Homo sapiens: one gene and its partners. The protein of the gene in region 1 interacts with the protein of each later gene in a pairwise test. Each region holds a gene or a part of one and is shown on either strand. Other genes may lie near its edges. The genes, in order: HELZ, SH3YL1 and SMYD3.

The links.
Region 2: the proteins of HELZ (region 1) and SH3YL1 interact in a two-hybrid assay, tested with the Homo sapiens proteins (one study listed by BioGRID).
Region 3: the proteins of HELZ (region 1) and SMYD3 interact in a two-hybrid assay, tested with the Homo sapiens proteins (one study listed by BioGRID).

The regions. Positions count from the first base shown.
Region 1 is NC_000017.11:67,241,819-67,250,413, reverse strand, and holds the start of HELZ (probable helicase with zinc finger domain), read left to right. Parts: upstream 1-5,217; 5' UTR 5,218-5,266; exon of another isoform or gene 5,267-5,638; intron 5,639-6,574; 5' UTR 6,575-6,630; intron 6,631-8,595. UniProt on the Homo sapiens protein: May act as a helicase that plays a role in RNA metabolism in multiple tissues and organs within the developing embryo.
Region 2 is NC_000002.12:218,455-226,344, reverse strand, and holds part of SH3YL1 (SH3 domain-containing YSC84-like protein 1), read left to right. Parts: intron 1-1,424; coding exon 1,425-1,481; intron 1,482-7,343; coding exon 7,344-7,534; 3' UTR 7,535-7,890.
Region 3 is NC_000001.11:246,503,826-246,512,365, reverse strand, and holds the start of SMYD3 (histone-lysine N-methyltransferase SMYD3), read left to right. Parts: upstream 1-5,086; 5' UTR 5,087-5,148; coding exon 5,149-5,312; intron 5,313-8,540. UniProt on the Homo sapiens protein: Histone methyltransferase. Specifically methylates 'Lys-4' of histone H3, inducing di- and tri-methylation, but not monomethylation. Also methylates 'Lys-5' of histone H4.

The DNA of each region.
Region 1 (8,595 bases):
TGTTGGCCAGGATGGTCTCGATCTCTTGACCTTGTGATCCGCTCGCCTCAGCCTCCCTAAGTGTTGGGATTACAGGCGTGAGCCACCCTGCCTGGCCTTTTGTGGTCTTTTTAATCAGTATTTGCCTTCTTTTGAATTTATTATTGTCTTCCCTCTATGTTAGCTTGGAAATTATTCATTCTTTTACAGGTCTAGTGATTAACTTAGATGTTACAACATGCATCTTTGCCTTTGTCAATGTCTAGTCTTAACTGGTACTTTAGTCGTATTGCTGGATAATGTAAATACTTTGGACCTTTTTTTTGTTTGTTTTTTGCTTTTTTGAGACGGAGTCTCAGTCTGTCACCTAGGCTGGAGTGCAGTGACGGGATCTCTGCTCACTGCAAGCTCCGCCTCCCAGGTTAACGCCATTCTCCTGCCTTAGCCTCCCAAGTAGCTGCGAGTATAGGCGCCCGCCACCATACCCAGCTGATATTTTGTATTTTTAGTAGAGATGGGGTTTCACTGTGTTAGCCAGGATGGTCTTGATCTCCTGACCTTGTGATCCGTCCTCCTCAGCCTCCCAAAGTGCTGGGATTACAGGCATGAGCCACCGCGCCCGGCCTACTTTGGACCATTTTAACTCCACTAACTGCAACCACCGCCCTTCTCAGATTTATACTCACTGTTATCAAATATTTCAATTCTAGATGTACTTTACATTCCTCAAGGCATTATAATTTTTTTTTTTTTGAGACAGTCTCACTCTGTCACCCAGACTGGAGTGCAGTGGCGCTATCTCAGCTCACTGCAACCTCCGCCCCTCAGGTTCAAGCGATTCTTGATTCTCCTGCCTCAGCCTCCCGAGTAGCTGGGATCAGATGACAGGCATGAGCCACCATGCACAGCTAAATTTTGTATTTTTTGTAGAGATAGGGTTTGCCATGTTGGCCAGGATGGTCCCGAACTCCTGGTCTCAAGTGATCGAACTCCTGGCCTCGGCCTCTCAAAGTGCTGAGATTACAGGCGTGAGCCACCGTGGGCAGTCCATTATAATTATTTCTCTTTTTTTTTTTGAGATGAAGTCTCACTCTTGTCACCCAGGCTAGAGTGCAGTGGCACGATCTCAACTCACTGCAACCTCTGCCTCCCAGGTTCTAGCGTTTCTCCTGCCCTGGCCTCTGGAGTAGCTGGGATTACAGGCGCCCACCACCACGCCCAGCTAATTTTTGTACTAAGGCAAATGACCAGGGAGTGTAGTTGTAGAAGAGAAACCCAAGGACTGAGACTTGGGACTCTCCAAGCAGAAAATGAAGGCACTGCGGCCGGGCACAGTGGCTCACACCTGTAATCCCAGCACTTTGAGAAGCCGAGGCGGGTGGGTCACTTCAGGCTAGGAGTTCGAGACCAGCCTAGTTAACATGGTGAAACCCTGTCTCTACTAAAAATACAAAAATTACCTGGGCGTGGTGGTGTGTGCCTGTGGTGCCAGCATTCGGGAGGCTGAGGCAGGAGAATCGCTTGAACCCAGGAGGTGGAGGTTGCAGTGAGCCAAGATCGCGCCACTGCACTCCGGCCTGGGTGACAGAGAAAGACACTGTTTCAAAAAAAAAAAAAAAAAAGAAAAGAAAAGAAGCCACGGCCAGTGGGAGCAGAGGAGAAAGAAAAAATGTGGGAAGGAAGAGGGATGTGATGTCGGGGGGATCAGTTAGTTAGGGCTGTGTGTGTTCATGAGATCAGAATCAGAATTGAGCTAAATCAGTGGTGGCCAAGGGACCTGTTTTCCCTCAACACTGTTCCTTTCTGCCTGCCTCTAGCTGTGTGTGGTCAGTGGTCTGAAGAGATGCGAGGCAGGGCCCTCAGCATCTCACTTCACACTTTAGCACTCCTTTTCATCAACACGCCCATCCCTGAGAGAAGTTTGGTCATGTACTCGACTAATACTTGGTGAGCGTCTATGTATGTGCCAGGCCCTGGTCTAGTCACTGAGGCAAATAAGCCAGACAGAGCCTGTGCCCAGAGGGAGCATATGATCAAATGGGGGCGGGGCAGATAAGAAACAACTAACAACAGGCAAACAAGAGAACTTTTTTTTTGAGATGGAATTCTCACTCTGTCACCCAGGCTGGAGGGCAGTGGCACGATCTTGGCTCACTGCAACCTTGGCCCCCCAGGTTCAAGCAATTCTCCTGCCTCAGCCTCCCGAGTAGCTGGGATTACAGGCGCGCTGTAATTTTTGTACCTTTAGTAGAGACAGGGTTTCACCATCTTGGCCAGGCTGGTCTTGAACTCCTGACCTTGTGATCCACCCACCTTGGCCTCCCAAAGTGCTGGGATTACAGGCATGAGCCACAGCGTCCGACCTAAACAAGAGAACTTCTAACACAGGTCAAGTGTTCAGAGTGACTTGGTCTGGGTAGGGGGATCACAAAAGTCCTCTTTGAGGGGACCTAAATATGATGAAAAGATGATGGGTCGGGCGTGGTGGCTCACGCCTGTAATCCCAGCACTTTGGGAGGCCAAGGCGCATGGATCACGAGGTCAGTAGTTCAAGATCACCCTGGCCAAGATGGTGAAACCCTGTCTCTACTAAAAATACAAAAATGAGCCGGGCGCGGTGGCGGACGCCTGTAATCCCAGCTACTCAGGAGGTTGAGGCAGAGAACAGCTTGAACCTAGAAGGCGGAGGTTGCAGTGAATTGAGATCGCGCTACTGCACTCTAGCCTGGTCGACAGAACAAGACTCTGTCAAAGAAAAGATAATCAGAAGATCTGGGGGAATAGGGTTCTCACTGGAAGGAAGCTTGGGGCGCTGCAGGGAAAGAGAGAAGGCCAGCCTGGACCACTGCTGGTGAGGGAAGGTGGGACCACCTCACACAGGAGCTTGTAGGCCAGGGTTGGGAATCTGGGTTTTATTCCAAGGTTTCAGCAGAGAAGTCTCGATCTGATTTACATTCATAAAATATCACAGGGTTGGTCAGGTGGAGGATGCATTGTAGGTATCCAGGAGGGGCAGGGAGAAGAGTCGGCAGGCCGTCCCAGCTCAGGCAACAGGCGGTGTATTTGACAAGGTTGGGCTTGGATGCACACACTGGAGGCAGTGAATGGGTTGGGCAGTCACACAAACTGAACACTTATTTGGGTCAATGCCTATACAAGGCAAAGAAAGGCTGCTTATCAAAGAAACGTGTTTGGGAGACACAGTCCTTGCCCTCAACTTATTTCCTGTTTACTTATATTAGGTGGGTGCAAAAGTCACTGCGGCTTTTGTCATTACTTTTGCATAAACTCAGACCACATACCTAAAGGTGCCATGCAAACAAAACCACCATTAAGCCAGTGCATACCAGTGGCTAAATAAGTGCAAAAGAGGAATTGGAAAAGAAGCACCTGGGGTACCCTGGAAAGAGACATTGGAGCCTTCTTCAGACGGGCCAAGCATTCCCTTTTCCAGCAGGAGGGGCGCTGCCTCCCCCCAGCCTAGCCCATGCCCTTGGTGGCTACCTTGCTGGGCCGTCTAAGAACCTGGCTCCAGGCTCCAGTTTCTCCACTTATTCCGAGGTGAGAAGCAGGTGACTCAGGGGAGGTTGCTCCCCAGCACGCTGCGTTCTTGGCTGGGAATGACTCACTACCTCGTTCCCTCCTTCACGAGTGACCCGGGGCCAATCCCTTAATGTGTCTACACCTTCTCATCAGACCGGGACAATTGCCTGGTGGAGTTTTTGGCTCCCCAGGGGCAGGGCTCCTGTCTGCCACCGTTCACGTTCCTAGTGAGGCTGTTGATAGGGTCTGGAGGAGCGTAAAATCCTCGGGTAGATCCAAGGCCCCAGGCCCTCCCCGTGCACCGAAAGAGGGTTTTAATGCCAGTGCTTCTGCGGTCTTCTAAAGGTAGAGCCGTTCAACAGCATTTTGTACCGAATACAATTCGCAAGCATTCCTGTCTTGGAGAATTTTCTTTTGGGTATCTCCTTGTTGTAAAAACTTGCTTGGAAAAAAAAAAAAGCAACTGGAGCAGGCCTCCAAAGACAGCAAAGCAGGGACCAGAGGCTCTGCGGAGAGCGCGGGAGGAGGCTGACCAAGGGGCCTCCGTTGCTGGGGGGACCTGGGCGGCTGGACGCCGGGGTCAGTACGCTGCTCGCCCCGCGCAGCCGAAAGCGGGCGTGGTGTCGCGGGGAGAGGATGCCCGGCAGCAGTGTGGCCGGCGGGCTGGGGGTACTCGCCCGGGTCAGAGACCTCAGCCCGCGCCAAGGCGCCCCACACTTTCCAGCGCAGCGGGTCGCAGCCCGGAGACGCCGGGCGTCCCCACCTCCAGCCTCCCGAGCTGCAGCGGCGCCCGCGGTTCTCCCCCGACCCGCCAGGTGGACCCGGACTGGCGCACCCTGCTTTCCGCCCGGGACCCTCCCCCGAGCCCTGGCTGCCTCCGCGCCCCGCCCCGCCCGGAGCCCGCAGCCGGCGCCCCGGATTACCTGCCCCGGAGTCACAGTCCGCAGCCCGGACGCTCCCAGGGTGGCTCCGCGGAGCCTGGAGCCACATTCCTAGGGGAGGGGTCCCCACCTAGAGGGTCGCGGATCACGTTACCCGCCCGGAGGAGGAGACCGCGGGACACAGAGTAAACAAGGGGTAAAAAGTTGCATTTGGCTCAATTTTTTTTTTTAAATCGTGCTTCGACGCTGGTGGACTCGGGGACACGGCGTCCTCCCAGTTCCCGGAGCCCAACGGCCCCGGGGCGGTTTCCCAGGGCAGAGGCACCTCTCCGGGCGGCGGGTGCGGAGCTGGTCTGCGCGGCCTCTGAAGGCGACCCCGGCCGCTCGCGGGCTTCCTGGAAGCGCGGCCGCAGGAGCAGAAACGCTCACATCCACGCGCACAAATAAATCCGCGAGCAGCTCCGCGCCGCGCCGCGGGCGGCAAGGAAACCTCGGGTTGATTCAATGCAGACGCGGGGCGTCTGCCCGGGCAGGAACGCGGCGAGGCGAGAGGACCGGGCGTGGGGGCAGGGAGGCCGGGGCAGGAGAAAGGGAGAAAACCCCAAAGCCACGTTTTAAAAATGCGGGTGAATTTTCAATGCCGTCAGCCCGGGGGAGGGGAAGGGGCCAGCTGCGGGCGCCGGGGTCGGCAGTCCACCCGGGGCAACTTTCCGGGCGGGAGGCGCGGCCGGAGGGGGCGGCGCCGGCGGCGGGAGGCGGGAGTCGGGGGCCGGGGGGAGTCACTTTAAAGGCTCTTTCTTACCCATAATGCTTTGTGGGGACGTTGACAAGTGGATCCAAGATGGCGTAGAAAGTAATGACAGGTAAGTCCTGACTTCCCCCTTCTCTGCTCCTGGGGCCGCTCCGCGAGCTCCCGGAGCTCTCCGGGGAGGGGACCCGACTCCCCTCCGGTGTCCCGGACCCCGGGCGCGGCGGCCCCGGGGCAGGCTGGGGGCCTGGGCGGCCCGCGGCTGGGCCTGGGAAGCGCGGCTCTTCGAGGCGAGGCCCGGACGCTGGGGCTGTTTACAGCTTCTTCCCCTACTTAGTCCCCTTCCCCTCCGCTGGGGCCCGCAGCGTCCTGGGCCCTGGCAGGAGAGGGGGCCTTGCACGCCTGGCCCGGGAGCCTGCGGGAGGTTTCTCCGGCCCAGAGCACTCTGGGAGGGGGACTCGAGCCTCCCGGCACGTTCCCCTCCTCCGGGTCGCGGCTGGGGGTGGGGAGCGTGCGGGCCTCCCACGCCCCGCTCGATGCCCCCCCTCAGGCCTCGGACTTCCACCGGGTGGGGTGGGGGCTGGAGCGGGGGCGTGGGGAAAAGTGGGTCAGGCGTGCGCCCCCTCCCTCCCCCGCGGAGGGCTCTCGGCCCGAGATTCACTTTCTTCCCCCCTTTCCCCGCCCCCTCCTCGGAAATGCTCTTTGGCCCACAAGCACATCAACAAAAATAAAGATAGGCTCTCTTTTCCTGGAGATTCCTTGAGAGTACTCCAGTACCCTTTTCAAGGGCTCACAGACTGCAGTCTTACCTAGGGAACTTCGATTCCTCTCCCCTAAATTATTGGAGCCTTCTGCACCCTCGCCTTTGCTGAGAAATCTTCAGACAGGGCTGGAAGCCAGGGTCCTCTGATTGTTCTTGGATCGGGATCCTCAGGTTTTGTTTGCAGTTCAAAAATTGTCATTCCTTCTCCCTCACAACTTAACACTTCTCAGGCAAATCATTAATATAATAAAAAGTGTAACTTCAGAGACAGTGGATTCCTGGAGCGGGGGAAGGAGGGAGGAGTTGTCTGTCTTGCCTAGTTTGTTCTTAATTTTGCTCTCTCTTAAACTCATATTAATGAAATTTCCTCTCCTTCATTTCTTTATGTTTTTGAAAGTAAGGTCAGTCTGTGTTGAAAAAGATGATTTTATTATGTTTTTGAGTTTTAAGAGCATTGTATAATCTATTCTTTTACCTTACTGAAAGGAAATGTTTTAAGGTCAAAAACCAGACTCATTTGCAAAGCTGCACACTGTACCATTTTTGTAACTTTTTCCATTTTAAATGTAGATGCCCTTTCACTTCAGGCTGATAAAATGTTTGCTACTGATAATGTCTGTTACTGGTGTTGTATGGAAACATCTTTTCTATTTGCCTCAGGATTTGGATGAAGTAATGGATCACTAATGAACTACAGTGCTGGTGAGATGTGTAAGGTGAGACTGCAGTTAAAAATGATTTCCTTTTTTTCCTTCTTTATTTTAATCAACTGGTAAGAGTAAGGCTGAAACTGAGTAATTTGATGGGGCCATCTTTGTTTTCCAAATGTATCACTCAGTCAGTGGGTCTATGGGCAGGGCTAGATTTAGAAAGGAAAAATATGTTGAATGTACCAATCTTTTCAGTTGCTCCAACATACTCAAACATAGTGGTACTTAACTAAGAGCCAAATGTTACTTGCAGCTATTCTTGATCAGTATCTTCACCAGGGATAATTATAGTTTGCCTATTCAAATTTTCTTGCGTAACTTTACTTGGATGTCTTAATTTTATTTGTGTTTTGGTGTCTATCACCTACTGTACGTTTAGTCCCGGTGATTATGTATATGGATTTTGTGTGTACCTGGTTTGTGGGACTCGTAAAGTATACCCTTTCCGTTAGAAAGAATTAGGCAGGTCAATCACTCCTGCTTTTATTTTCTGAAAAATGGAGTAGTACTTTTCTCTTTAATAATTATTTTGAAATAAAGATGATAGTGTTGAGATCTGTTTAGCTTATTAGGAAATAGACTAGTTTGTCATTATGTCCTGATCACACACGGTGTGTGAATTTATTCAAAGTGCTTTATTTAATCTAATTTGTAATGCTTTGGATTTAAAGGATATTATTGATACAGTGTTAGTGAATAGTTTTCTGTGCTATAGAGAGGAAGAGAAGTTTGCTACTTTTACATTTTTCACGAGTTTTCTCAACTTAAAATGTTTTACTAAGTTTTTTTTTAGAAAAATAATAAGTAATTGTGGTCGATTGGTTACTGTAGTTTTTTTTTTGTTGTTTCTCCACACATCTGGGCCTCTGGATTTTGAAATCCTCTCACAAATTTTTCGTGTCTATCACAACATCTGTTTAAGAAGAATAAGCTATCCTTTTTTTTTTTTCTAGATTGAGGCATGTAATTGACATTTTGCCTTAAAAAAATAAAAACTTAGGAAAGGAAGGTGGACATAAACCAAGATTCTTTTGTAAGTGCACATACTGCATTTTCTTGTGTTTGAAACTCAGCAGTGCTTATGTTTATTTCATATAATTTTTATTTTTGGCAGAGCAAATATGGATTTTTAAATTTATTTTTATTTTGCAGATGGAGGCATATTCCTGCCTTAGACCTCCCAATTTGAACTTTATATATGTGTGTATATATACATATATGTGTGTATATATACATATATGTGTGTATATATACATATATGTGTGTATATATACATATATGTGTGTATAGATATGTGTGTATATATGTATATATGTGTATATATGTGTGTATCTATGTATATAGATAGATAGATTTTTTTTCTTTTTTTTTTTTTTTGAGACAGAGTTTCACTCTTGTTGCCCAGGCTGGAGTGCAATGACGCGATCTCAGCTCACTGCAACCTCTACCTTCCAGGTTCAAGCAATTCTCCTGCCTCAGCTTCCCGAGTAGGGATTACAGGCTTACGCCACCACACCCGGCTAATTTTGTATTTTTAGTAGAGAGAGGGTTTCACCATGTTGGTCAGGCTGGTCTCGAGCTCCTGACCTCAGGTGATCTGCCCGCCTTGGCCTCCCAAAGTGCTGGGATTACAAGCGTGAGCCACCATGCCTGGCCTTATCTTTTTTCTTGAAGCCTACAGATAATTTTGTGGAAAGGAGCCAGTGGTCTGCTTTTTGACTGTGGAGATGTTTGTTTGTAGTCTAAAATGGAATACTTAGAAGTAGGTAATCTTGTGTGGCTAGTGTTGTTTGACCTGAATTGTGTCAAGACATTTTCCACAGTTCTCACACATGTAGACTCTGTGAAGTGTTAGTATTCATTTCAAAGCGAAGTTAGTGGTTGGCCACTGAACAACTTGTTACACAAAGTATTCTAAAATGGGAAATGCCATAGTATTGAAGGTTGTGGTGAGGTAGAAGTCTGTGTCTC
Region 2 (7,890 bases), on another chromosome or scaffold:
TTCTCAATTTATGGAAATGTTATCTATATTATAGGTTTTGTTGGTCATTTGGATTGCAGCATATTTCTACACTTACCATTTTTCTTTTGATCTTGTTTTTCATAATTTTACTCCATGAAAGTTTTAAATTTTATCTAAAAATAAGTCTATCATTTAGTTTTTATAGATTTGGATACTTTGGTCATGATTAAGGTCTTCCCACCTCCTACACAAGAGTATGTTCATAGTCTCCTAGATTTTCTTGTGATTTTTTTATCTTTGCATTTACTGGATACTTAGTCTTCACATAATTTGAGCTCATTTTCCTAATTTTCCCCTCCTCCCCAATATACAATTCTAGTTGAAACAGTATGATGTACTTGTATCCATTCTATAATTTTTCAATGCTAATTATGGTAACATTACATGTATACATTTATTACTTTGAGATATAATAATTTTACCATTTCATGCTTTCCATTTGTTGAGATTTTATGTCTTTCAATAAGACTTTGTAATTTCTGTGCCTTTTGTGTTAAATTTGTTCCCAAGTACTTTGAGATTTTGATCTGCTAAGGTGAATGGAATGCACTTTTCTATTTCTACTTAAGTACCAATTTTCACAGTGAAGGAAATCTTAATTTGCATATATTTTGTTTGTCTTATATCTCGTCACTTGCTCAAAACTATTTCTAGTCAGTTTTTAAAAATAGATTCTCAGAGGATATTTGTATCCTTTTCCCATCCCACCAAACTTTATTTCTAAATTCTGACTTTCATAAATGTCTTAGGCCAGTGGCCTTCACACTGGTGTGTGCCTGTCTTTAGGAGTACGCAGAGACTGCAAAAGGGGGTGTGGGCACAGGCCACTTAAGAGACACCATCTCCAGATCTCCAGCTCCTGGATAAGTTCTTTTTAAAGCTGAACATGATGTGCAAGGTGTGCTCTTCGTCTTCTGTACTGTTAGAATCAGTTTTTCTGCAGTTGAAGAAGAAAAGCAAACCCCCAGACCGTTCTGCCTCTTTCTACACTACATCACCCCAGAGCGTCAGAACGGGAATCCAGTGTGAAATGTGGATGCAGTTAGTGAATGGCTCTTATGCAGTGTAAATCCTTCCATGAATCAGTGATTTCTGTTTCTTTGCCTTCAATGCAATTGAAGAAGAACCTAATAGAATTGTCATCTGAATTTATAATGAGAATAGTGTGTGTACTTCTGTGTCATACAGATGTCAGGTATTTATCATCTACCTTATACTTCATGTATCTTCTGGCTTTATTCAGGTATACCTTGTGATTTAAAGCGCAATCAAATGATGATGATCCTATCAACTTAGTGATTTAAAATATTTGCTCAGCAAGGGCAGGATCTGGCAATTTTGTGTATTTTGTATGATATATACTAATCAGTTTTCAAAATCACCACTCTCCTCTTTTTTGGCAGGTAACAGAAATGAATATAAGCTCTATCCTGGACTTTCCAGCTATCATGAGAGAGTTGGTAAATCAGTAAATCTATATGTTATAAATGATTCATATTCATTTTGTGATCACAAACTTCCTAATTAATCTGACAGGTTATGAAAATCTCTGGGAAGTGTTCAGCCCTTTAATTTATAGAATATTCACATTCTTTTGAGAAGTACTTCATTTAGAAAATGCTATGCTTTTGTTATCTTACTTGCCTTTAAGGTAATGAGGGTGATAGGAAGCTGACAGTCAGTGTTGTCTGTGTAGGGAGTGTGTGCTGGGGACAGCGCTGCTAAGCCCCGGATAGGAGCTAACCGTCAGTGTTATCTGTGTAGGGAGTGTGTGCTGGGGACAGGGCTGCTGAGCCCCGGGAGCCATGGCATCATCTGAGGAGCATGTGATCTCCTCCACATTTGCTGTCTGGAAGCTTTTGAATTTACAATGGAGATAAAATGAGAAAGTTTGCTAATTCTGAATTACAATTTCATCCTTATTCCATTTTCTCTGTGTTTTAGCACCATAAATTTTATATTTCTAAGAATTTTATTTTTCACATTCAAATGTTTTGTTATTACTGGAAACTACTTTATAAAACTTGTTAAGATTTACCATAGTAAAAATGGTCCTTCAATCTGTCTTACTTAAATATTCTTCAGAGGTTTCCCTGAAGAGAATTGAGCAATTATTTGCAAATGTGAGTGGTACACAAATTGAGGGCAAAGTTAAACAATCATAAAATAGCCTGTTTATTTTTTCACATTGAATACTTTCGTCATTGGAGTCACAAAGCTATATGCTGCTGGATATAAAACTGTCGGAGAATTAAACATTTCATGTAAATAAAATACCAAAAATTAGGTACTCAAGCATATTTTAAAAATTTATATCATGCAGATAAAAATATGTTGAAAAGGTCTCTTAAGCAGCATCCCCTGAAGAGAGGTCAGCATGTTCCTGATGGATTTAGGGTTGGTGACCTTTCTTTTCACCCTGGCCTCCCCTTCTGGGAGCCCACTCCAGTGTTTTTCCCAGATGTTTCTCCTCCGAGGGGGTTGAGCATCTGCTCCTAGAGTCCTGTATGGAGAGCAGGTGCGATGGTCGGGGGCTCACCTACAGAAGATGCTGTGCCATGGTCTTAGGTATGCAGAGAAAGCTCTGAGAGGTTTTAAAAATGTGTTTCACCCTTTGTGGTTCACACCCATGTTACAGGCCATGTTAAAGAGACATCAAGTTCACACCCACATTACAGGCTGATTTAAAGAGACATGAAAAGTTTGGCCTTTGGATACACATCCTGTAGAAGCAAAAGTGGTTAAGGTATAAATGTTGACACCAAGACAGCGTAAACACCTAGATTTTTATCTTACACAGCCTCTTACTTTTAAAGACTCAAGATTAGACTTAGACTTAGGTATCTGGTTGTTAAAGTGCTCCTAAACTTGACAAGGTCAGCTGACTGGCTGCACTTGCTTGGGAAGGGAGGGGATCCCTACAGAGAGACAGAGCTGAGGGAAGCTGGCTGAAAAAGAGCTGAGGCCACAGATCCCCCAAAGAATGCCTTGGTAATGTGACATTGGGAACTAGAGTTCCTTTCTCTATTAGAAACTTCCTATAAACAGCACCAAGGAAAAACGTTTCCTGATAAGAAATTAAACTCTAAGTGGGCTGTGGAGACAGAGATTCCAGTTCGAACCCCCGTACTTTCACTTACCAGCTGTGGGACCCAAAGGGAACATCACTTGCCATGGTTGGTTTCTCCGTTGCTTCTGTGTTTGTATTTGAGGACAGGACAAGGTAAATGGTAACTCAGTTACAACTGAGTTAATATTCCTTTAGCCCATTCTCCAAAGAGGTTCTTGAAGAAAAAATTAAAAGGGAAGATTTACAGTCCACTTTTTAAATAAAACTCACTTTACGTTACGGAATTTTTTTAAACGCAGCTGTGAAGGCATTAACCTCTTACCAAGGATTTCCTCATGTTTGCTTACCATCGCTGCAGAGAAAAGTCACAGTTACATGGCCCCAGGGCCCGAGCCTTAAATTGAAAACCTGATGAAGCAGGACACTGAGTCCTCCACGTGCGAGCTCCTGAATCTGTCTCAGCCCCACGGAGGGGCTGCTGGGTGTGATGATCAGCTACATCACCTGTACTTTCCTCCCACCATCTTTTGGCTTTGCCCTTTGGAAGGTCCAGCTGTGTAGTTCTTGGGCCTCTGAGAGAGACAAGGCTTGCAAATGCACAGTCCAATTTTCTGATCTTCCCTCTAGGGACTCTGGAAGGAATGGTTTCATAATCAAAAGCTTGGACCCTCCAGCGTCAGCATTCTTCCCCGTCCTCTTACCCATCCCATAGTTGTCTGGGATGGGGTTTCTCAACCTGGGCACTACACACAATTTAGGCTGGATAACACTTTGTTGTAGGGGCTATCTTGTGCCTCATAGGGTGCTTAGCAAAGGCTGTGTTCTCCTAGTTGTGACCTTCCCAAGGCTGTGATTTTTTTCCTGAAACAGTCAGGCCAGGGGTGCTGGCTGCACAGGGTCTGCCTCATGCAGGCTCCATGAGAAAGTGGACTGGAAGTGAAACAGGGACATCCACAGACCAGCCTTTCTAATCATGGGCCTCAGGGCAGCTGCCAGTCACCAATGCTGACTGTGATCTAATTCTGCTTCCTGTTTGGGAAAAATAACCCCTACTTCAACTAAACTTGAATATTATAAAGGAAATGGCCAATTCCCTCAAAGATCCTTCCGATTTTTTAAGTACATGAGTATAAGGCTGAAAGGCATATGCTGTGCAGAAGGAAAGGCATCTGTGAATGCCTAGCTTTTTAGTAACTCAGTGGGGTTTGCTTCCCGGTAACCAGGAAGGTTTTTCTTCATGGAAGGAATCATTACTTGACTCACCTTTTATTGGTGAATTCTTTGTGGGCATTAAACTTCTCCTTGTGAAAATTATCTCTAATATTTACATTAAAGAGGAACTTTAAGTCATTTGGAGTTTTTCAAAGAAAAAAACTAACAGGGCACAGCACTAACTGGCTTGTGGATTGTTATCTGAGAAAGCAGATAGGCTCCTGGATCTGCTGGCCTCACTCTTGTGATTTTCATGTGGATGGAGTTTCTCCAACAACAGCTCAACTCCTGACTCTCTTGTACTCCTCCCCAGGAGGCAGAGGCATTTGTGGTCAATTGGGTGAGGAATTGGGCACAAGGAACAGTCAACACACATCTTAGCCTCAGTAAAGGAGAAATGTGAGATCCCGGCCCCCTCAGACCTTCAGTGGTGGCCTTCCCTTCAGCTGCACCTGAAAACCACCCACGTTGCTCCTCTACCCTCCTCTCTCACTCTGCTTTATCCTCATTTCATTTGGAATCTGCAATTCAGAGAAAATTAGACCAACACCTGATTGTGAGGGCAGGGACCAAACCAGGTGTGTGATCTCGCCTTCTTTCTCTTTCTTAGTTCATAATATATTTATTTCTCTAATTATTCCTCATAAAATATATTCCTGAAACTGCTTAGAACCAATTCAGTTATCAGGGATTACCCAGAACCATAGCATCAGATGCTGTTATTTGTACAGTCTGGAAACCCAGTGAGGCAGGTCACCACATTAATCCCCCTTGAACATTTGCCTCATAAAAGTAAAATGCTCCGATAAATGTCAGTTTGGTCTGTTGAGCACAATTTCATATTTATGAGGTTGTTGAGGGTCTTGGATGACCTGGAGACAAGCTTCATTCCTGACCTTGGACAAATTACTTGTTATCTCTGAAGCTCAGTTTCAAATTCTGTGATGTGGGATAGGAGTAGCTGGCTCATTGCAGTGGGCGGTGTAAGAGGAGCACATGTGTGTGCCTGAGCAGTTCGCGGTGGCTGCTCTTCCCAGATGCACATCGATTGCTGTTATCATTGTTGTCGTCCTTATTATGCATTTTTGATTTTATAAATGAGACTGCAAGTGTATAAATGCATGGTAGCTAAGATGGCTGTGGCTCCCAGAACATTCCCTGATGTTCACAAGCACTCTTTTAATTCACTTCTTCCTATTATCTAACGTGTCTGGGAGACAAGAGGGAGGAGAACAGAGTTCCTGGAGGTTCTTCACTGATTTGTTCTGGTTAATTAAGATTCAGCTTTATATGTGGATATCCTAAATATAATCATGAATAAGAGATTTCCAGGATGGATTTTTCTTTAGCATTAGCTTGCATCCTGATCTGATGACAGGGAAGCACGGCGTGAGCGCCTGCCCGGTACCCCACCCAGGGCAGAGCACAGCTCCTTTCACAGTGCATGGCAGCGACTGCTCATTAACGTGTAGAATTTAATCGTGTACTTAGAACGTTTAACTTAACTTCTGTTGTTTCTAGACTATGTCAAAATTTTATTTTGGTGACATTCTTTTATCCTTATTCCTTAAAATTGTTAACTAAAAGTAAATATAGGACAAAATAAAATATACAGAAATTCTTTTTATTATAGAAAAAAGTAGTTATACCAGTATTATCTCTAGTGTAATTATTATTAGGATTATTTCTTTAGAACTCAACTAAATGGCACATACTTTAAAGAAAGAATGGTAGCACCATCTTGTGAGAGCTACAAATTCAGTGTTTTAGTCAGAGTAGTTTAAAGTGTTGACTATTTTTATTTCTTATGGGTGGACCAAATTCACTTTATTATTATTATTATTATTATTATTGTATTATGGGTTCAAATAGGACCTGGCTCTAGAGTCTGGTTATTGATGTTTTCTGTATGTCTGTACATCTAGTTGCCTAATTTATGCACAGAATTATATGAAGCATAGAAGCATCAGACTCCATGTAGCTGAGTGCTCAAAAACTGTTTAATTATATTTTTATGATGTTATGTGGTTTATAATATTTAATGTCCTTTATTCATGTTAACTGCTCAGTTCTCAAAGTATTTTCTTCCTTCTGCAATACATGGATATACACATTGCATTGAAGTACTTGTGAAACATGTAGAAATGCTCCTACCTGTGCTAATTCCAACTTATCTCTGATATTGAGAGGATGGATCAATTAAGCACAGAAATGTAAACAGCCACAAAGCCCAGGGAGAAGAAATGTCTGCTGAGGAAACAGCAAAATATAACTGGGCTGCAATCTTCAAGCCCAGTGAGTAAAGAGCCAGGTTTTAAAGTTGAATCTCCTAGGGTTTGATATAAGCTCACATATCTGCCTTTCTCCAGCATCTGCCATCCATGAAACTGTCACACTATCTTGGCCCCTTCCAGCTGCTGTAACAAAACACCATAGTCTGGGCAGCTCATAGACAATGGAATTTTATTTCTCACGCTTCTGGAGGCTGGATTCCAAGATCAAGGTTCCAGGAGACTCAGTGTCTGGCAAGGTCTCGGTTTCTGCCTCAGAGATGGTGCCATCTGGCTGTGTCCTCACAAGGAGGAAGGTGCAAGAAGCTCCCCTCAGGCTCTGTCTGTAAGACACTGATCCCATTCATGAGGGGGAAACGTAATGACCTAATCAGCCCCCAGAGACCCCACTTCTAACACCATCACCTTGGGGTTGAGGATTTCAACACTTGAATCTCAGGGGGACACAGACATTCAGACCACAGCAATGACTATATTAAAATAGAAAAAATGTAAGTTGTATTATCTCATAGATTATTCAAAATTTAGACGATTGTAACCAGAAGCATGTGCTAAATCCTTAGGTATAGAATGTGCAGAGAAAAATAAGTTTAATAATGTGATGAAAATTACACAGACTGTTGTGGTTTCTGCCAGCCTCCAAGACATCAGCATGCCAAGCCCTAAGTGGTTAATTTTTATCTTACCAGCAGATACCCCCAATTTCTCCCTTAAAGAACATAAACGTGAATACTTTTTTCTTGTTTCAGGCAATTTGAATCAACCCATAGAAGTGACAGCGCTGTATTCATTTGAAGGACAGCAGCCTGGGGATTTGAATTTTCAAGCTGGAGACAGAATCACAGTTATATCAAAAACAGATTCACATTTTGATTGGTGGGAAGGAAAACTTCGAGGTCAAACTGGCATTTTTCCAGCCAACTACGTAACCATGAATTAAAGCGTATACTATTTTCTTCTTTGAGAATTACAAAAAAATTATTTCTACACTGACAGGATTTACTAGTTAAGCAATGTTTAATATAAATTTTAAAAAACTTCTGTTCTACAAAATTTCCATTCCGTATGTAAAAGATTTTGTTTTTCTATATAAAAAGAGCTGACTGACATATCTTTAAATACTTTGTACTAACTTTATCACACTTACTGTGTCATAGAATATCATACAGTTTATACGCTCATAGTTCTCTTGTGAACACTTCAAACATCGCTAAGCATTTGATCTGGCCATGTATATGGTAGCTGTGTTTTAATTTGAGAATCTTGAGGGTAGAGCCACAAATTTCAATTCTTACA
Region 3 (8,540 bases), on another chromosome or scaffold:
TCATCCCACGGCAGAGGTTGGGGCTCAGGCCCAGCCTCATGGGAAGACTGGGGCAGAACCCAACTTGGGAGAGCTCAGAAGCCTCAAGCCCTGGGGAGGTCCCTCTCTCCAGAAGCCATATCCCACTGAAATGAGTGCCCCTCATGAGGAGCTGCAAGACCCTGTCTGACCCAGCCTCCTGGAAGGGTCAGATGACCCTCATGGGGAGGGTCACTGACTCTGGGGACTGAAGTCCCAGTGGGCCCAGCTCGAGCCACCAGCCCCCAGCCTTGAAGGGCCAGGTCCTCCAGTGTCTGCTGTCCCCATAGATCTCTCTCAGGCTCAACCTGCACCTGTGGGATGTGTATTTGGTAGAAGGGGAACAGGTGTTGATGCCGATGGCATGCACTGCCTTTAAGGTTTAATGGAGTAAGTCCACGTGTGCCCAATGGCACTGGGGAGCACTGGGGTCAGACTCGGACTGGCCTGAGGGCAGCTTCCTCACACTGTCCCCATGATCCTCTGCTCTGGCCCAGGGGGAGGTCTGGCTGGGTGGGCTGGGCAGGGCACAGTGACACCAAGCCCACCCCCGACATGTTCCAGATGAAAGTCTGGAGTGTGGTGAGCACTTCCCTGCCCAGGCCACCCCCAGCCACAGCCTCCTATGCACATCTGGACCCCTGGGGTGGCCACAAAAGGATCTGGCACCTCCCAGTGGGAGACGGTTGAGGTGGCAATGAGGTATGGGCTCTGACCCTCCCAGGGAACTCTCCTGGCCTGATGCCCACCCTATCCCTAGAGGGCCTCATGAAGACATCCAGGTCTGGCCCATGGGCAGTTTTGGGGGCTGGTTCTCCCATACCTAGGCCCTGGATGAAGACGCAGCTCTCGGGCACCCTTGGGCCTCTACGAGGAAGCTAACAAGGAAGAATGGGGACCTGCCACCCCCAGATGGGCTTCCATACCAGGCCCCCTCCTGAGTCACCCTCTGGGGCAGTCAATAGTGGGGGAGCGCCCGGGACCCCCAAGCCTACTACCTGGGCCTTCCTCTTGTGCCTTTTCTTCCTCCTTTTCCTCCTGGACTCTAAGAAAGACAATAGGCCCCCGGTCCTCAGGGCAGGTGCTCAGTGCATGTGCACTGCACATGCTGTGCACGCAGGAGGGGGATGTGGGCAAGACCTCTCCAACAAGCCCCCTCCCACTTTCCACGGTGTCCCGCCCCCCCCCAACAGGGCCCTTGACGGCACTGGAGGAGCCAGACCCATTTGTGGGACCCCCCCCACCCCTCCCTGCAAGCACTGACAGCCTCAGAGAGCAGCAGAGGCCCCTCACTCCTGAACATCCCTCCAAGGGTGCCAGGACAACGAGCCTTGAGCCAGGGAGACAAGGGAGTCGGTGTCCCTGACCCCCAGAGCTTTCAGGGCAAGGGCACAGGTGGGACCCCTGGCCCAGAGCCAGAGCCAAGAGTTCAGCCAGGTGTGGGAATGGTCAGTCCTGGCATGGACCGGGCAGCCCAGGAGGGCAGAGGGGGCCCCGTATCTGGGCCCTCTTACTCATGGTAGAGACAGGTCCCCAAGTGAGGTAGCAAGGGGGCTGGGTGACAGCCAAGGCCCCTCCCACCTGAGTTCTGACTGGGGATCATATACCAGGCCCAACAGCCCTGGGATGAGGGCATGGGGCAGGAAGCCCCCAGCCAGCCTGAATCCTGGGGGGCAGTCCCAGGAGCCACCTGCTGTGCCCCGACAGCTTCCCTACCCCAGGTGACACACACCCCTCCCTCTGGGATCAGCAGCCTGCAGGTGTGTCCTCAGTGTCAGACCCCAGGGGCCACCGAGAGACCCTGAGGACTCCGGAGACCCAGGCAGGTGGGGCCCGGCCCAGAAAGGACTCTTTGGGCCCACTGGAGGTGCTGCCTGATCACGTCTGTTTTTCTTTCAGCCAAACCCAGGCAAGGGTCCTCAGCAGCCAGGGCTGTGCTGGCTTCACGTGGCAGGAAGGCCCTCTGCAAGGGGGATGGGCAGGTGCCCCCTGGCCCACCAGCCTGGTTCCAGCGGCCCATTTGGTCTGCTTCCCCACCATGGGTTCCTTGTCCTCTCACACCTGTCCTGGTGGGGCTTCCATGTGGCCAAGGCCCAGGGGCGTGAGGGGGCTTCTGGGGAGCCCAGGGCAGCAGGCCATTCTCTGGGGGACCCAGGACTTATGGTGTGCCCAGCCTGGCCTTGGCTCAAGGAGGACCTCGGGGTTCCTGGAGGTACCTGCAGCGGAACTCCATGTCCCGACTCCCAGTGGACTTGGATGTGGGGGGCCCTTGGTTCCATAATAATTTCAAACAGAGCTGCTGAGCTCATGTCCCTTCTGAATGTGTCCTGGACAGCCCTGGGACCATGGGGCAGGCTTAGCCCCGGAAGCCCATGGGGACCCCCATATCAGGCCCTGCCTAGGCCCATCAGGACTAAGAGGGAAGTTGGGAGATGCCCCCACAGCAGCATGGGCACCTGCATCTGGCCCCCTTGGTGGCCAATGACGGGCATGCCTAGAAGGAGCCAGGGTGGCACCCCACCAGCAATCCCAGACACCTTGGAAAATGCTGTTCAATGAGGAAGCCGGTCCCGTCAAGGCCATGAGAGAGAAAGGTGAGCATGGCATCCCTGCAGCCCAGCCAGCCAGTAGCATGCCCTGGGTCCTTGGTCCCAACCTGTGGAACAGTGTCCCCCTCCCAGGGCACAATTCGCAGGCCAAGAGGGGCCTGGCCTAGACCCCAGCCCTGGGAAGAGCGGGGAACCAGAGGTGTGGTGGGCTCCCAGCTGCAGTCAGCATGGCCATGCAGGGGGCCCTGGTACCACGGAGCTCTGCACTGTCACAATTCACCTCGCAGGGGCCGGCGAGATCCCGAAGCCTCGCAGCAACTGCTGCAGCCACAGCAGGCGCCACCACCACATGCCTTCCAGCCGCCAGTGCAGGGTTTCCCGACAGCAGGGTGTCCTGCAGCCCTCGCCTCAGCGGCTCAGACGCTGAAGGTATCTGTGGTTCATGTTTCTAGTGCTCCCACCAAAGAGAATCACTATGGAGGATGCTCTTGGTCCTGAGGTGAGCAAAACAGCACGCCCTGTGAATGGAGCCGGCTTCTTTCCTGGCCACCATGCTTGCTGGATGGGCCCACGGAGCAAGTGGCCTTGAGACGGGCATGGGAACGGAAGAGGCTCAGCATCCTGCACGTGCCCTTACCGAGGCTCACCAGGCTGACACCACTGCTGAGCGCCCCTCCGTGGATGAGACACTTGCACCCAGTCTCTGGGTTGGCACCATTTCCCAGGAGGACCAGCTGGCCACCTGCTGGCAGGCTAATCACACTGTGGAGGGGGCTGAGATTGGCTTTCACTGCACCAAGCCACAATGTGGACGTGGATTTGCCGGCCCTGCAGTGCACACAGCACTGCTTCTGACCAGGACACCCCATTCACAGCTGGGGATGTGCAGCATTGCGCTCCCACCTCAGGGCCTTGGCTCTGCCACCTCGACTTGGAATGTTCTCAGCTCCCTCCAGGCTTCTAGAAGCATCTGGGACACAGCTCATGGCTGGATAAGCACCCGAGGCCCCACAACCCAAACAAGCTTCCCATCCTCATTTTATTTTTTGTCAAACTTATGAAAATTTATTAAGATATGACTTACATCCCTGGTAAGTGCACAGCTTAAAAGATATTCACAGATGGAACACACCAGCCCCCAGATCACAAAGCCAACCATGCCCAGCCCCTCCCAACACCCCCAGCCCTGAAACCAGTGTTCTGACTTCTGACAGCACCACGAGCCTGCCTTTTGTACTTTACACTCATGGAAGCATAACCACCTTCATGTTTTAAAATAAATGTTTACTTTTGAAATGACTTTAGATACACAGAAAAATTGAAAGGCACTATAGTGTACTCCTACACCTTCCATCCAGCTGCCCTTAATAATGACATTTTGCATTACCATGGCACGTTTGTCCAAACTAAGAAATTTAGGCCGGGTGGGCTGGGCGCGGTGGCTCACGCCTGTAATCCCAGCACTTTGAGAGGCCGAGGCGGGCGGATCACAAGGTTAGATCGAGACCATCCTGGCTAACACGGTGAAACCTCGTCTCTACTAAAAATACAAAAATTAGCCGGGCGTGGTGGCAGGCGCCTGTAGTCCCAGCTACTCAAGAGGCTGAGGCAGGAGAATCGCTTGAACCCGGGAGGCAGAGGTTGCAGTGAGCCAATATCGTACCACTGCATTCCAGCCTGGGCGAGAATGAGACTCCGTCTCAAAAAACAAAACAAAACAAAACAAACCCCAAAAACAAAAAAGAAAATTAAGCTGGGTGTGGTGGCTCACACCTGTAATTCCAGCAATTCGAGAGGTCGAGGCAGGAGGTTCAGGTTCACTTGAGGCCAGGAGTTTGCGACTAGCCTGGGCGACATAGGTAGACTGTCTCTGGAGGAAAGTAAAAAGCATTAGCCAGGCATGGTGGCGTGAGCCTATAGTCCCATCTAGTCAGGAGGCCCAGGCGGGAGGATTGCACATGCCTGTAGTCCCAGCTACTATGGAGGCTGAGGCAGGAGAATCGCTTGAACCCGGAGGTCAGAGGTTGCAGTGAGCCGAGATCTCGCCACTGCACTCCAGCCTGGGCGACAGAGCAAGACTCCGTCCTAAAACAAAAAAAAGTTACAGTGCAAAGTACTAGTTGTGATGTCATGATGCCTGCAACTTTGAAATAGTTTAACGACAATACGTGTATACATAGCTACAGGTGGGGAGAGAGTGACGAGCAGAAATGGCAAAGTGCTAGGTTGTCTGATTTAGGCGGAGGTATATAGGTGTTCACTGCACTGTTTTCAACTGTTCCGTATGCGTTAAAATGATCGTAATACAATGTTAGAGGGAGAAAAAAAACCCCGCCTGTCTTCTGCGCAGTCGCCATGGGCACGAGCCGCACGCGGAGCCTTACGACCACCTTCAGGTCCCACACACTCCACTCCAGCCGTCCCTCCAGACTCCATCTGCGCATGCTCTTGCCCCACCGCGCCCGCCCCGCCCCTCGGGCGTACGTGTGCGCGCAGGGCGCAGGCGCGCGGGTCCCGGCAGCCCGTGAGACGCCCGCTGCTGGACGCGGGTAGCCGTCTGAGGTGCCGGAGCTGCGGGAGGATGGAGCCGCTGAAGGTGGAAAAGTTCGCAACCGCCAAGAGGGGAAACGGGCTGCGCGCCGTGACCCCGCTGCGCCCCGGAGAGCTACTCTTCCGCTCGGATCCCTTGGCGTACACGGTGTGCAAGGGGAGTCGTGGCGTCGTCTGCGACCGCTGCCTTCTCGGGTGCGTAAGGAGCGCCCTCGCCTACCTGAGTCGCGAGCTGTGTGGGGTGCTGGGGAGGGGGGGGCGTCGGGCGGCCGGCAGCCGCGGGACTCCTGCTGGATGGGGCTGCACAGGCAGCTTGGCGGTGCTGCCCCTGACGCGCGTGTGCCCGGGGGCGGGTCGCTGCTGACAGGCCCCGCCCGGACACCCCCCTAGGTTGCCGCAGCGGGGCTGGGAGGGGGCCCAGGCTCAGCCACTGCCCCCCAACCTGGGCTGCGGTGGAAATGGGAAAGCCATTGGGCAGACTTGAGGGGGAAGCGTTGTGCCGGGGATAATTTTGCTGGGAGACGAAAAGTCTGTGTGCTGGACAGTCTTCCTTGGTGCGGCTGTGGAAATCACACGTGGCGGGCGTGGGGCTGGGTGGGAGCTGGGATGAGTATAAATCAGGCTCCCCTGCAGAGGCCCCGCCGGTAAAGCATCAGGCTTGCAGCAGGTGGAAGAATCTTGATGTCTACGGTGCACCTCTGTGGTCTGGGTTGTGTGTGGCCTGGGGATACGAAGAGGAACGGGACCTCCTCAAAGAGCTGATCAAGTGAGAGAGAGAATTACAGTGTACCAGAAGGGCTGAAATAGAGGGGCAATTAATGTGCTGTGGGAGCATCAGACACGGGTCCCCCGTGTGCTGTGCCATTTAATGGCTGTGCAGGCATGTCTAACTCTTAACCACCATTCTAGATGCAGGGATTCACGTGAAGGTGTTTTGGAAGCCTGGACGCGCTGTGCCGGTGTAAAGTGCTATGTGAAAGCAATTTATGGAAATGTGTAACATACATGAATAATAGGAACTGCATTCAGTCAACAAATATTATTGAGCTTCTGTGTGCGAGGAAGAAGAGTTCTATTTTGAGATGAGTGCGATGATTTTGTGCATGGCCGCTTTTCAGACCTGCCAGTCTGAGATTTAGGTGGGTGGAGGTGGGACGGTAAGTGCAAAACTCGTATCTGTAATTTGACCATTGTTCTTACTTTGTTCTCATTTGATTCATAATTCAGGAATATGACTTTGCATTTTAGAGCTACCAAATAATAATTTTGTCTGTTGCTTTCTGAAGTAATGATAACAGCGAAAACATCTGTTCGGGAGAGAGCAGCATCTTGAAGTTTTTGTAAACTGTGTGGTTGAAAACAATTCGTTCCTTTCAAGATAGTTCTTGGAACAGAAAAGTTTTGGAATGAATAAATGGTGACAAATTGGCAATTGAATCATTAGAGCTGAAGTTGAGTCTTGTGACACACGGAATTGTGCATTTCCAAAATAAGCTACACAAACCCTTTGTGGGTGGGATGCTTGTTGATTTACCATACTATTTCATTAGTCTCATTCATTTTTCCTGTTTGCAGTAACTGGGGATTTAAGCAAAAAAGGAATTTAATGAAAGAGTTTTGGGGGAGTTCTCAGTGTTGCTTTAAAGTCTGCCAAGACTTGACTGGGCATCGGCTGAACCAAGTTAGGATTGCACTGCAAAAGTAGCTGGGGCTGGGATCTGGGGTGTATATCACTTCTGTCGCCTGATAATATTGGATTCTGCAGTAGGTACCACGAACACCATAGACACTGGACCCTGGTGCTGCTGCTGCTGCTGCTCCTTGGGAAACTCACTGTTGCTGGAGAGTGATTCTCTCAACCATTCTTCTTTGTGATACTGGCTTTTATTCAAAGTCCTCAGTGAGTGTCTTGGATTGGCTAAACTTAGGTCACTGCCTGCACCCCTAGCGCGAGGGAGGTTGAGACGGTATTTAGCCTTTTTGGCTTTTAAGATAGAAGGCAGGCTCACTCTACTTCCCACCGATAGTTATCCAGTGGGGAAATCAGCAAACATAAACATAGAAAAAGGGATATAAGTAAATGCTAAGCATCTAAACAAAACAAGCTAAACAGATTCTTCATAATGACTGACAAATACTTACTAGTATTTTACACAGACACAAAATATTTGCACTTACTTTGGATTGCCAGGATACACAGTTCACTTGTGTTGTGGTAGTAGTTGCTCTGTTTGAACACTCCCATTTTAGTGGTTATAGTGTTCCAAAGAGCCTGGTTGGGAATCACTGCAACCTGAAAATAGTGTTAGGGAAATGTTAGCGCATTGTTTGATGCAGTTTTCTGCCACTGTTGAATGCCTGTCCTTGAGGGATAAGTTTCTGTATTACTTGTCATCTTGTAAGTAAAATTTGTTTCTCTTTATTCACTGTCCATTGTGAAGTCTTTAAGAATAGTGCATCTTTCAGTTTTTGTAGCCCCAGTGTCTAACACATAGTAAGCCCTTAGTTTTAGTATGAATGTCTGGCAGAATTTTCCTCCTAACTGCCCCTGTCCTTCTGCTGCCTTCCATCTGAATTAAGTATGGAATGAAAATGTTAGTTTGTAGCAATTAACAGTTACATGGGAAAGGAAAAATCAAAATAGAATTAAAAAAACAGATATTGATGATAATTACAGTCATGCACTGCATAACGACATTTTGGTCAGCGAAAGACCAGATACATGACAGTGGCCCTGTATGATTATATCATTTTTTAACTGTACTTTTTCTGTGTTTAGGTACATTTAGATACACAAATACTTACCATTGTTTTACAGTTACCTACAGTATTCAGTACAGTAACACGCGGTGCAGGTTTATAGCCTCAGAGCAGTAGGCAGTACAGACAATACCTGCTAGCCTAGGTGTGTAGCAGGCTGTATGTACAGTCTGGGTTTGTGTGAGGATACACCATGATGTTCCTACAACAATGAAATCACCTCATGATGTCCTTAAGGGATGCACATCTCTACTTCCTTAGGCTCCAGAAACAATGGTTACCAAGTTTTACATGATTTCCTTTGCTCTAGAGCTGTTTTGATTAGTAGCTTTAGTTCTGTATACTTGTTTTTGTTAATGGAGAAAGGTGAACCTGCTTCATGGCTTATCTTACCTTTTTCCTCTCATTAAGGAATGGCTTCTGGTTTTTCCGTGTTGTGCCTGGAAAAGAAAATGAAGTATGTAAGTTGTAGAAAGAGTAAATGGCAATGAAATTATAACCTGAAATCACTTTTTTTTTTTTTTTTTTTTTTTTAAGATGGAGTTTTGCTCTTGTTGCCCAGGCTGGAGTGCAATGGTGTGATCTTGGCTCACCACAACCTCCGCCTCCCAGGTGCAAGCGATTCTCCTGCCTCAGCCTCCTTAATAGCTTGGATTACAGACC